Regions from separate parts of the Homo sapiens genome. Here region 2 is linked to region 1. The links come from fine-mapping of genetic effects on gene expression. A gene starts in region 1. The other region holds a variant in brackets. All regions are shown on one strand. Distances are from middle to middle. Region 1 holds the start of DPH2 (diphthamide biosynthesis 2). Region 2 holds the start of IPO13 (importin 13).

The links. PIP is the estimated chance that this variant, and not a neighbour inherited with it, causes the effect.
Region 2: its variant is fine-mapped to the expression of DPH2 in whole blood (TOPMed, PIP 0.98).

The regions. Positions count from the first base shown.
Region 1 is chr1:43,966,763-43,972,069 of GRCh38, reverse strand. It overlaps DPH2 (diphthamide biosynthesis 2), which reads right to left and starts at 2,060. Exons shown (of 6, transcript NM_001384.5): 1 at 1,748-2,060; 2 at 1,362-1,474; 3 at 881-1,104; 4 at 1-683. The coding sequence starts at 1,894. IPO13 (importin 13) reads right to left here. Exons shown (of 20, transcript NM_014652.4): 17 at 5,288-5,307; 18 at 5,051-5,140; 19 at 4,574-4,755; 20 at 4,048-4,484. The coding sequence ends at 4,388. RefSeq lists enhancers at 1-387, 173-717, 718-1,264, 1,750-2,029.
Region 2 is chr1:43,945,545-43,950,908 of GRCh38, reverse strand. IPO13 (importin 13) reads right to left here and starts at 3,959. Exons shown (of 20, transcript NM_014652.4): 1 at 3,225-3,959; 2 at 756-1,492. The coding sequence starts at 3,308. It overlaps LOC101929609 (a long non-coding RNA gene), which reads left to right and starts at 4,310. Exons shown (of 2, transcript NR_188535.1): 1 at 4,310-4,428. RefSeq lists a silencer at 3,914-4,163. The variant G/C (reference allele first, on the strand shown) is at 2,454.

The DNA.
Region 1 (5,307 bases):
AGGCAATAAGTCCGCATAATGTGTGAGGTGGGGAGCCAGGCCTGGAGGTGGCCAGGCAGGGTTGCAGGCAGCTTCCAGCTCACATGGTGCCAGTATAGGCTGGAAGAAGCTACCAGAAAGCTGGGGGGCTAGAGCACCCAGAGGACAGGCTAATAGCACAAAGACATCCACCTCAGGGAAGTTGGCAAGCTTGGCAGGGGTGGGCCGCCCCAGGGCCAACACATAGCTACGCTTGCCAGCAGCCTGAGTCAGGTTCCGCAAGTGGGCCAGTGCCTCACGGTGTTGGGCTACACCCAGTGTGCCTGCCAGCAGCCCTACCACGCGGGCATCTCTGGCCCTCTCTACCAGATATCGTCTTCGTGCCCTTAGCCGTCCAGCCCGGGCACCCTCATCCTGAGTCTTCCCTGTATCTGGACAGCAGGAGGAGAAGGGTTGACCTGGTGCCCACCCCAAGAGCAGCCGACTCAGGTCTGGGTCAAGGTCTGGGTCAGGGCTGGCCTTAGAGCCCCCTACATAGAAGGCACCATACTCTTCTAGACGCCTCCCTGGGGCAAGGGGGAAGCGGCGCCCAAAACGCTCTAGGGGCATAGGCTCTGGACTCAGGGAACCCACTGGTTGGGGAAAAGCTGGGCTGGAGACTAGCAGGTCCAGGTACCGTGGGCGCAGGAGAGTAGCCAAAGCCTCTGGAAGAGAAGGAGGTAGTGTTGAGGTTGGAGCCTGGCAAAGCAGGAGCTCCCTCATCCCCAGGAGACTAAATATGACCCAGTAGGCTGGGGCCAAGCCCATATCAAGAGTTCTATGGATGGTATATGGAAATGGGGAAATTAAGGCATAAAGCAGTTGGCTCACCCTTTGTGCATACACAGGCAAAACCCCTTACCCAGGGCATGGGCACAGGCCGGCTCACTCAGCAGCACCACAGGCGCTTTGGGGTCTGGGTTCTGGGCCTCAAAGGCCTTGACACAGAGCTCCAAGGCCACAGAACGTTGACGAAGCACGAAGGCAACGGGCAGTGGGCGGGCTGGAGGGCTTAAGCAGGCAGGGCCAAAATGTATGAGAGCCTGAGCTCCAGCTTGCTCAGCACCCAGCACATCCACGCAGCAGCTGCAGGGAAGATAGCATCAGAGAAATGGGTTCTCTTCTGGAGGCGAGTTGCTGTCATCACTGGGAAATGTGGTCAGTGAATAAAATGGTTTCATTAAAGGAAGACATTGTCAATGAAAGGAGCTAGCATCAGAAGGGGAGTCATTACCATTATCATCAAGGAGAAACACCACCATTGAAGGCAATCACTGTCATAGACGTAAAACCCCATGAGCCCCGGATCCCCAGGCCTGGCCCACCTAAGGCCAAGTTCACACCTGCCGTAGGCTGTGTCACCCAGAATGAACATCTTTGACCCTGTCGTCTCCTCCAGTCGTGCAGCCACAGCCACAGCATCTCCCAATAGCTGGTCAGGGAACTGCAAGGCAACCTATAAGCATAAACCATGGAGTCAGGGACAGCCTCTCTCCCACTGAGGGCTTCTTTAAAGCAATCTTCCAGGAGCTCCCACTCAACCTTCAAAGCCCCTGGTCCCAGAGGGGCACTCTGCCCCACGTAGTAGGTGGAAGGGAGGGATGGTCAACGCGCTGCGGACAGACTGATTCCCCCACCCTCTCGCCCTCACAAAATCCCCCAAGATCCGGATCCTCTGGGCGACCCATCCCGACAGAGGCGAGCCACCCTTCCCTAAGTCTGTCCTCACTCGTTCACACCCCAGGTCGCGGACAAATCCAGCGACTCGCTCCAGCTCGTACACTCCGTCCAGGTCCGGAAGAGGAGTAAGCAGTCCTGGCACCCCGGTCTCTCGCTGCAGCGCCGCCTCGGCAGGGCTGCTAAACATCGACTCCATGAGGCACAGCTTGGGTGGTGGGATGCAGCGGGGACCTCCCTGGGACAGCTTCGGGGCCTGAGTCCTCTAGAGCAGCCCTCAGGGGGTCAAAATCGCCTTGTGGGGGTAGGGGGAATCACAGTCGGCCTTCAGCCGGTGAGTATCCCCTTCAGCCATCCTAACTACTGTTTCTCCGCTACACGTGGGACTACCGGGGAGGTTACTTCCGGGTTTTAGAGGCGTGGCTGATAGCGATTTTGCCAATCCTAAGTCAGCACAGCTCCCGCCCTCCAATCCCCGCCACCGCCCCGCACAGAGAACCAATGTTCAGCCTGAGTCCCAGGCCAGCCGGAAGTACATCGAGGAAGGCGCGGAGCCTTGTGGGCATTGTAGTTCCCCTGGCCTCCTCTCGGGCGCTGGGAGTCCGGTTCAGCCGACCCGCGGCCATCAGGAACACCGACTTCACTGTTAAGCATTTCACGTGCACTCTATCCTCTGGGCAGTATCACTGCATAATTCTTTCATTCATTCATTTTTTTTTTTTTTTGACAAGGTCTCGCTATGTTGCTTGGACTGGAGTGCAGTGGCGCGATCTCCACAACCTTCACCTCCTGGACTGAAGCCATCCTCCCACCTCTGCCTCTTGAGTAGTTGGGGCTACAGGCGCACCACCACATCCAGCTAATTTTTGTATTTTTTGTAGAGACAGGTTTTTGCCATGTTGCTCAGACTGGTCACAAACTCCTGAACTCAAGCAATCCACTCATCTCGGCCTCCCAAAATGCTGAGAGTACAGACGTGAGCCACCGTGCCCGGCTACACTGCATAATTTTAAACTTGGTGCCGACCGGCTCGGGTTTGAATATTGTGCTTGGTCACTTGCTACTGAGTATCTTAGGAATGTCCCTATGCCCATTTCCTTATCTGAAGAATGGGGAGTTGTGACAATAGTACCTCTTAATAAGATTGTTGTGAGGGTCTAATTAATTTATATACAAAACTTTACAAAGTAGTTCTTTGGATATCGCATGCAGTGAAAGCATTTGCTATTTAATCAGCCAAATACTGAGCACTTACTGTACATTAGGCACTTCATTTTTAGTGTTTACAGTCTTTGGAGTAAGAATTATCCCGAGTGGTACCAAGGACATGACTGGCACATCCTCAAGTCACAGGAGATGCTCTGCACAGCTCCAGCCATCCTCAAACACTGCTGCTTCCCAGCAATACCCCCAGTGCATACCACATAGACCTCTACCCTCCAGCCCCTCACATCCCCTCTACTCCCCATGTTTACTTATATGCAAACACCCCCACATGCAACATCACTTGAAATGCCCTCCTTACATACCTCTGTCAGATACGGAAACTGAGGTTCAAAGAGACTACTTGTGTAATAAGACACTAATTCTGTGGCACAACCAGCATCAAACCCGGATCTATTGAACAGGGAAGGAGTGGGATGAATGTGGGAGTAACGAGTTCCCCATCACCCACAAGGAGATTGAAAGCTCAAGGGTAAAAGTGGGGAGAACTCATTCTGCTCTTCAGATCTTACTGAGGAGAAGCCTGGGGTACCTGAGAGGCAGCCTAGGTGAAACTATAGCTGAGGAGACAGAAAGGGAGGCAACACTGCTAAGGGAGAAAAGCAAGAATAGGTCAGGAGCTGTCCCTGGTGCTGATTGATCCCTGACCATCCTGTGCTGGAGGTCCTGTGTAAGCGGGGAGCAGCGGACATATGGACAACCTTAGGTCCTACTTTCCTCTTTTCTCCTCTGCGGCTGAGATATCTTCTCTCCTTCACCTCCCTGCCACCCACCCACCCCCCAATACACACACACTCAGCCCCTTTCTATAGCCCTCCTCAACCATATGCAAGTTCGATGTTGTATAACTCCACACCAGAAACCCCTCCCGGAAGTCAAAACTCCACTCCATTTCTTCCTTCCTAAACGGACCCAGCCCTACCCCACTTGCAGCCCAAAGTCTCAAGTCCTCTACCTAGAAAGCCTACTATTCCTGTCAAAAACTTTCTCCATGCAGCCTTCCCTCACTTCCTACCATTCTCCATGGTAGCTATGGACTAGATCAACCTTTGTTCAGGGCAGAACGACGCAGGACAGAGCTAGGGGCCTAATATTCGGCGGTGTTGATTAAATAAATGTATGCATACATGCATGTTGGGATTAATTTAATGGGGATGGGGGGGTTGATGACACTACTGCAACCACCCCGCCCCAAGGACAATGACAGTATTCTGAAGGGCTCCAGCCTAGGTGGCTTGGCTACAGTAGTATCTCTTCCAACCTGGGAGCTAGAGGATGTTCCCACCATTCCCTCCCAAGGCCTGGGTCCAAGCATCCTCCCATCCTTCCCCCAGGCCTTCTGGACCCAGGCTTTCAGTTAGGTGGTGGTGACAGCAGAAAGGAGGCAGAGACAGCAGTGAGGGTCCAGGTTTACTCTTTGGGAATAGGGAAGGATGAAGAGAAGGGGTGGATGGGATGGGGGCACCCCTCAGTAGTCAGCTGTGTAATCTGTGCCATGGAGACCCCGGCACAGCAGTGTGAACTCCTTCACCATCTCCTTCACCCGCCTCTTGTTCACTCGCTCGCTGAAGGAGAAAAGGGAGAGCAGGTTAGCACCAGCCACCACCACTGCCCCCTCTCTGCCTGACCCCAGGCCCACCCCAGCTCTGCTCACCGAAGGATCTGCTGGCTGAAGGTATCCTTCTGTTCAGGGCTGAGGCGGGCAGAGGGGAAACCAGGTGGCTGCAGGGCCTCCTTGATCCACATGCTCAGGAGGCTGAAGCAGTGCTTGTTCAGGGCGAACAGGATATCGGCAAAGCAGTCCATGAGGCTGCGGGAGGCCTGGCCCCCAATGGCCTGAGGGAGAGGGGTTCTCAGCACACCAGGGTGTTGCCCCTTCCGCCGCTTCTGCAGCAAGAATGCCTAACTGCCCTCTGGACAGTTCCTAAGCCAAACTGCACATCACAGTGAGCGCTGCTTTTTGAGAGCCAGCTGATCCCCACAGCAATCCTAACAACTTTCAGGCATTTAATTGAAGAAGAAACAGAATCTGAGAGCTTAGGGGACCAAAGGCTCAAGCCTCCCAGAAGGCCAGCTGCCTCAGCAGTGAGGGGCCCTCACCCCCATCAAACCCCCCTTTGCTCCGTCTCACCTCCAGCACTGCTATGAGCAGCATACGACCGTCTTCCTGTACCACCTTTCCCACAGACTCTACTTCCCCACACCGAGGCAGCAGCTCTGTCTGCAGAGGATGGAGAGGCCCATCAGCCCAGCTCCTTCCCAGCTCTCCCTGAGGACAAGACCTGTACACCCCAGCCCTACTGTCTGAAGTCCTGGGCAGGGGAGGGCACTGGGGTGGCAGTGGGTCAGGGTTCAGCATGGGACTCACAAAGAAGCCACAGGAGGCCT
Region 2 (5,364 bases), 21 kb after region 1:
GGCTAAGAAGGAAAAATACTGGGAGCTCTGAGGTAATATAAGAGAGAAGATCAAACTTAGCCTTAAGAATCCATGGAGGACTTCCCTATGGAAATGAAGTTTAAGCTGAGGCAAGGTGTCAAGTATATGTAATGAGCCAGAGGCTGAAAGGAACATGGGACATTCAAGGAATTAAAGAAACTGTGTGAGCGTGTAGAGAGCAAGGAGAGTAGCATGAGATGAGGCCAGTGATGCCATACTGTGCAGCACCATTATGAGTCACATTAAGGATTCTGAGCTTTAACCTAAGAGCATTGAGAAGCCACTGAAAGCTTCTGATCAGAAAGATTAGATCCCCATTTTCAAAAGATCACTGTGGCTGCTGGGACAATGAAGGGTACAAGAGTGAGGACAAGCTCTACAGTAATCTGGGGAGAGAGATGATGACAGCTTGGACTAAGGTGGTAGCAATGGAAATGGAAAAAAATAGATTTGCAATATGGTCAGGAGGGGAACAGCCAGGACTTGGTGACTAGTTGAGAGAAGGAAAAGAGAGTCAAATATTTTAATTGAATAACTGATAATTAGTTGTTTAATGTCTGCCTCCCTGTCTGAACCATGAGGACAGGGACCATGTCTTCTTTGGTTCCTTGCTGTATCTCCAGCATAGGACCAGGTATCAGTACACATTCAATTAATGTTTATTGAACAGATGGATGGATGGATGTGTGGCTGGCCAAAGAGGTTGTCTTCTGGGTGAGTGGGTACTAGCTCACCTCTGGGCATCAGGCTGTGAGATGGCATTCACAATGGCCTCCACACTGCTGTCGAAGAGCTCCGAGTCCTGCAGAGCAGCAAAGGCAGCCTGAATGAGCGCCTCACAGTCCTGCAGCGGCACCTCCAGCTGCACCCAGCTGGAGAAACACTTGAGCACCTTCTGACGCACACAGCTGGGTGAGCTGGGCTGCTGTAGCAGCTGCTCCAGCAGCGGGAAGACAGCCCCACATTCCACCGCCAGGCTGGTCCGCACCAGGCCTTTGCGGTACTGGGGTAGGCGACTGGTCTGGAACTCCTCAGGCAGCACTGTCAGCAGCTCTAACAGGGCTAGGCAGCGGCCCTGCCCATCCACTGGTGAGTCCTCAGCCTGGAAGAGTCGTACCATATCTGCCACAGCACATGGCCAAGCGTCAGGCATCATGCTGAGAGCCAGTGAGGCCAGTGCCACGCACAGCCGAGTCAGTACAATCTTGGAGCCACTGGCAAAGCGGGTGATCTGGGTGAAGAGCTGTGCCTTTAGGCTTTCATACTGGTCAGTGGGGATGTCACTCCAGTAGCGAGAGATCTTGATGTGAAGAGCACTGGCCCCAAAGTACTGGATCTCTGGTACCTTGTCGGGCTGCAGTAGCTGCCAGCTGAAGTGCCAGGCCTGTGGGGAGACCTGGGCCTGCATCAGCCACTTCTGAGCCAGGTTCTTATTCTCAATGTTGGGATCATAGTAGAGCTGGTGCAGCGCCTGCAGGACAGCACAGGACTGAGCAGGTGCTGGCCACTCTGGATCCTGCCAGAGCCCAGAACAGAGGCGTGACTTGGTCCTGCAAGGCTGCTCCCTCTCCCTGACTGGGGGGCTGAGCAGGGAGAGCTCAGCGCTCTGCAGTGTTTCCTGGGCCTGGGGTCCTGCTGATATCTTGAGAGCCTGAACCTTGCCCATGCTCTACCATATCCTCTTCTCCTTACAGCAAAACATTATGGGTTCAGAGAGGGAATCTCCACAGGAAAGCAAAAAAGAGGAGGCTGATCTCCCCAAAGGGGAGGCACTTGAGGGCAAGGCCCAGGTGGAAGGAACAGCTTCACAGGGATGAAGCTAAGTCTGAGAAGGGCATGGAACAGCTTGAGGGGACTTGACCCTCCCAGGCACAGCTGCTCCCATCAACTCCAACAGCTCCTTTCAGCTCCCCCAGGATCATCCCTAGGTCAGTCCAGATGCTGGCACCAAAGCCAGTGTGAAATCAGAGCAGGACTAAGACTTTTGCCAGGCAGCCCTGGGGCAGACATGCTGGAGGAGAGGGTGAGAACACTCCTCAGAGGGCACATGTCCAACCAATTGATCCAGAGAAGCCTTGGCCATAGCTGCAGCCCTGGCAAACACCTAGCTTAGTGCTCTCCACTAGCAGAATCCCCGGGGTCTCAATTCCAACGGGACTTTATGAAGTAAGAAAACAGTGAGATTTATCTCCCAATAGCACATGGAACAGTGCGCCACCATGCCAACACTGCCCTGCTCCAAGGGGCGGAAGAGTATGGCCAGGACCCTGACCCCTAAGCAGGCTCCATCCAAGTAAGCTTAGCTCTATTTGTACCCCTGACAGCCAGTTATGGCCATTGGCCCTTGTTTGGCCCCTCAGGGACGCCAAAGCAGGCAGAAGAGATGCATCCTCATTGTTTGTTATGGCAAACGGGGGTTAAGGATAACAAGT[G/C]AACATCATTCCCTGCTTTCAAGTAAGGGAGCCCCATCTCCCCATTCATCCCAGGGTGCATGCATTCCTGCATTTCAAGTTGTAGGGAGCAGATACAGAAAAGAACCAAAGAGGCAGTTCAGAAAGATGGGCTGGGCAGTCGGGGAGCCTGGGAGGGCCATGGCAGGGAGCTATGTGGGCAGGCGAGTAGGGAGGAGCCCTGTAAGGCTCCCAGCAGGGCCAGGACCCTTGGACTCAGCACAAAACAAAGGGAGACAGCCCCAGGCCTGCCTGCTCAGGACTGGTCTGGCTTCCATCCAATAAAGGAAGGACCCTTCTCCAAAGAGTCAAAACAACCCAGATTGTTTTAGTTCCAGATTATTTTCTGAGCCCTTGGCTCAACAAAACCAGGTCCAGGATGGTTTGGCATCAGTATAATTCCAGGAGACTGAGCTGCAGGTCTCCTGGGTTCCCAGTTTCCTACTGCACTGCTCATGCAGTTCCCATGGAGCTGGAACATAGCCAGTCTGGACGGAAGGCTAAGTCACAGCACCCTGAAGGGACCATCCCAAGACCCTAGAGTATCTATCCACAGGGGACCTGCCTGTAAGGAAAGACAAAAATAGCCCATTAGGGCACTGCAATACTGCCTGCCCAGAAAGAGAGCAAATGCCAGGTGCTCTGGGGGCACCATACCAGCGGGCACCCAGCCCAGGCCTGAGCTCTGCCATCAGTGACAGTCCCCAGAACTTCTGCTCTGTCACTGGAGTGCCCACCCCAGAGCCCTCATACCTTCTCCACGTTCTCCACAGTGAAGTCCAAGGCTGGTGCTGCTCCAGCCCCTGCAGCCCCCGGCTGCTCCTCCCGCCGCTCCATCTTTGCTCCCTCCCTGGCAGGGAGGTGGGCCCTGATCTGTCTCCTGCCCCAGCCCCTTGGCTGCTGGCCCCCTGCTAGACCCCGGCTTGGGTGCCCAGGGAGTGGTGGGGTGAGGGGGGGCCCAGGGCGGGCATGGCTGCCGAGGCCTCCCCACCTCGTTTGGGGGTGGGAGGCTTGCCAGAGACCAAAATTGGTGCTCTTAGGAGACCCAATGAAGGGGACTCCGAGGAGGGAGCCGTCAGTGAGGAGCTCTCAGGCGGGGATCCTAGTGGCAGGTAACAGCTCTGTCCCCAGAATCTGTGTGGAGGGAGTCACAGGGGAGGGAGGCCTGCGGGGGAAACCGAGTCCCTGGCTCTTGAGGGGTCACAGGGTCGATGGCCTGTACCCACAACACCCCCGCCTGGGTGAGCTCTCGGCTGCTATGAACAGGTCATGGGGCTGGAGGGTCACGGGAGAGAGAGAGCCCTTCGTGGTTACGGAGGCGTCCAACGAAGCGCGGAGATGCAGCTCCGCTAGTCTAGGGCGAAGAGTCCGTGGAGTTGAGGGGCTGTGGCAGGTCCCTTCCGTTCGGCCTGGCCCGCGCTGTGCTCAACGCCCGGCTACAGCCCCGCTACAGCCGCTGCCTCCGCCCCAGTGACTGACAAGACAAGCCAGGCCGGCCGGGACGGGGCAGGGACCTCGGCAAGGCGCGGGCTGCCCCGAGCGCCTGTCCCCGGCACCTCCAACTCAGGCCCCCACTCCTGCCAGTTCTGGCTCGGCACGGCCCGGTACAGGCCGGCACGGCCCAGCGGAACTGCGCGGAAACTCATTCCGGGTCCTTAGCCCTGTCCTCGCGCCAGCTCGCACTCCCCTGAGCAGGCGGTGGAGCGGCTCGCCGCCCCAGGCCGCGGCCGAGTCTAGGCCCCGCCGCTGTTCACCCTGGGAAATGTAGTCCGTGTTGCGCCTAGCCGGAAGGCGGCGCCCTGCGGAGGAGGCCGGGAGCACGTGGGTTGGGGACCTGCAGAGCCCCGCCTGTCCTCGGCCTACCGCGGCGAGCAGGCATTCCGGGTCAGACCGGCGCGGGGCGCTGCGGCCCAACTCCTTAGTAGGACGACGTGACTCGAGGGGCCGGAGGACGGAGGTGGGAGCCCGGGCTAGAGGGTGGAGGCTGGGGAGGTTGCCTGGTCACTCTGGCGCTCCGCTGCCGGGGGCATCCTCCGGCCCAGCAAAGGTGCAGCCTGGGAAGAAGGCGTCAGCACCACCCAGAGAAGAGGAGAGGGGACTTGGCACGCCTCAGGAAGGAAAAAAGGAAGGCTCTCGGGACCACCCAATAAGCAACCGGGAAACCACATACCATGGACAGTGCTCGGGGAATTTCGTAAGGTTTTTGGAAGTAACTTTATGTGTAACTAGAGTAAGAGTAGCTTACATTTAAGTGCTAGGAGCAGGACTTTGCTTACCTTAGGTTCAGTTTTCTTAATAGCTCTGAGGTGGATATTTTTATTCATCATTTTCAGATGAGATGAGGAAATCGAGCTTGGGGAAAGTTAGGCTTATCTTGCCCCTGGCACACAGACAGGGTGGCAGACCATGCCATAGATCTGGTCTGCCACAGGCCCCGGTAGTTCCTGCCTGTCACCCCTCCAGTTGTATTTTATTGTTTATTAACTCCTGCCAGCTACCCTAGCAGGGAAGAGGAAAAAATTAAAAGTGCAAAGAGCTCCGTAGTTTTGTTCAAATGGAGGAAGCTGGCATTGGAAGCTGGCATTGGCAGCAGCTGCTGAGGCCTGAGAAGGTCCATGAAGGCTTCCCTGAGAAGAGAAACTTGATCTGAGCTTGAAGAATAGAGAGCCTGGGAAGGAGAGGGGCCCATTTAGCTGGTAAGCAAAATCCAGTAGGACTCTAAGTCATTCAGCAAGTCTTCATCAATAAAGAATAGCAAGTAGGCCGGGCGCGGTGGCTCACGCCTGTAATCCCAGCACTATGGGAGGCTGAGGCGGGCGGATCACGAGGTCAGGAGATCGAGACCATCCTGGCTAACACGGTGAAACCCCGTCTCTACTAAAAATACAAAAAA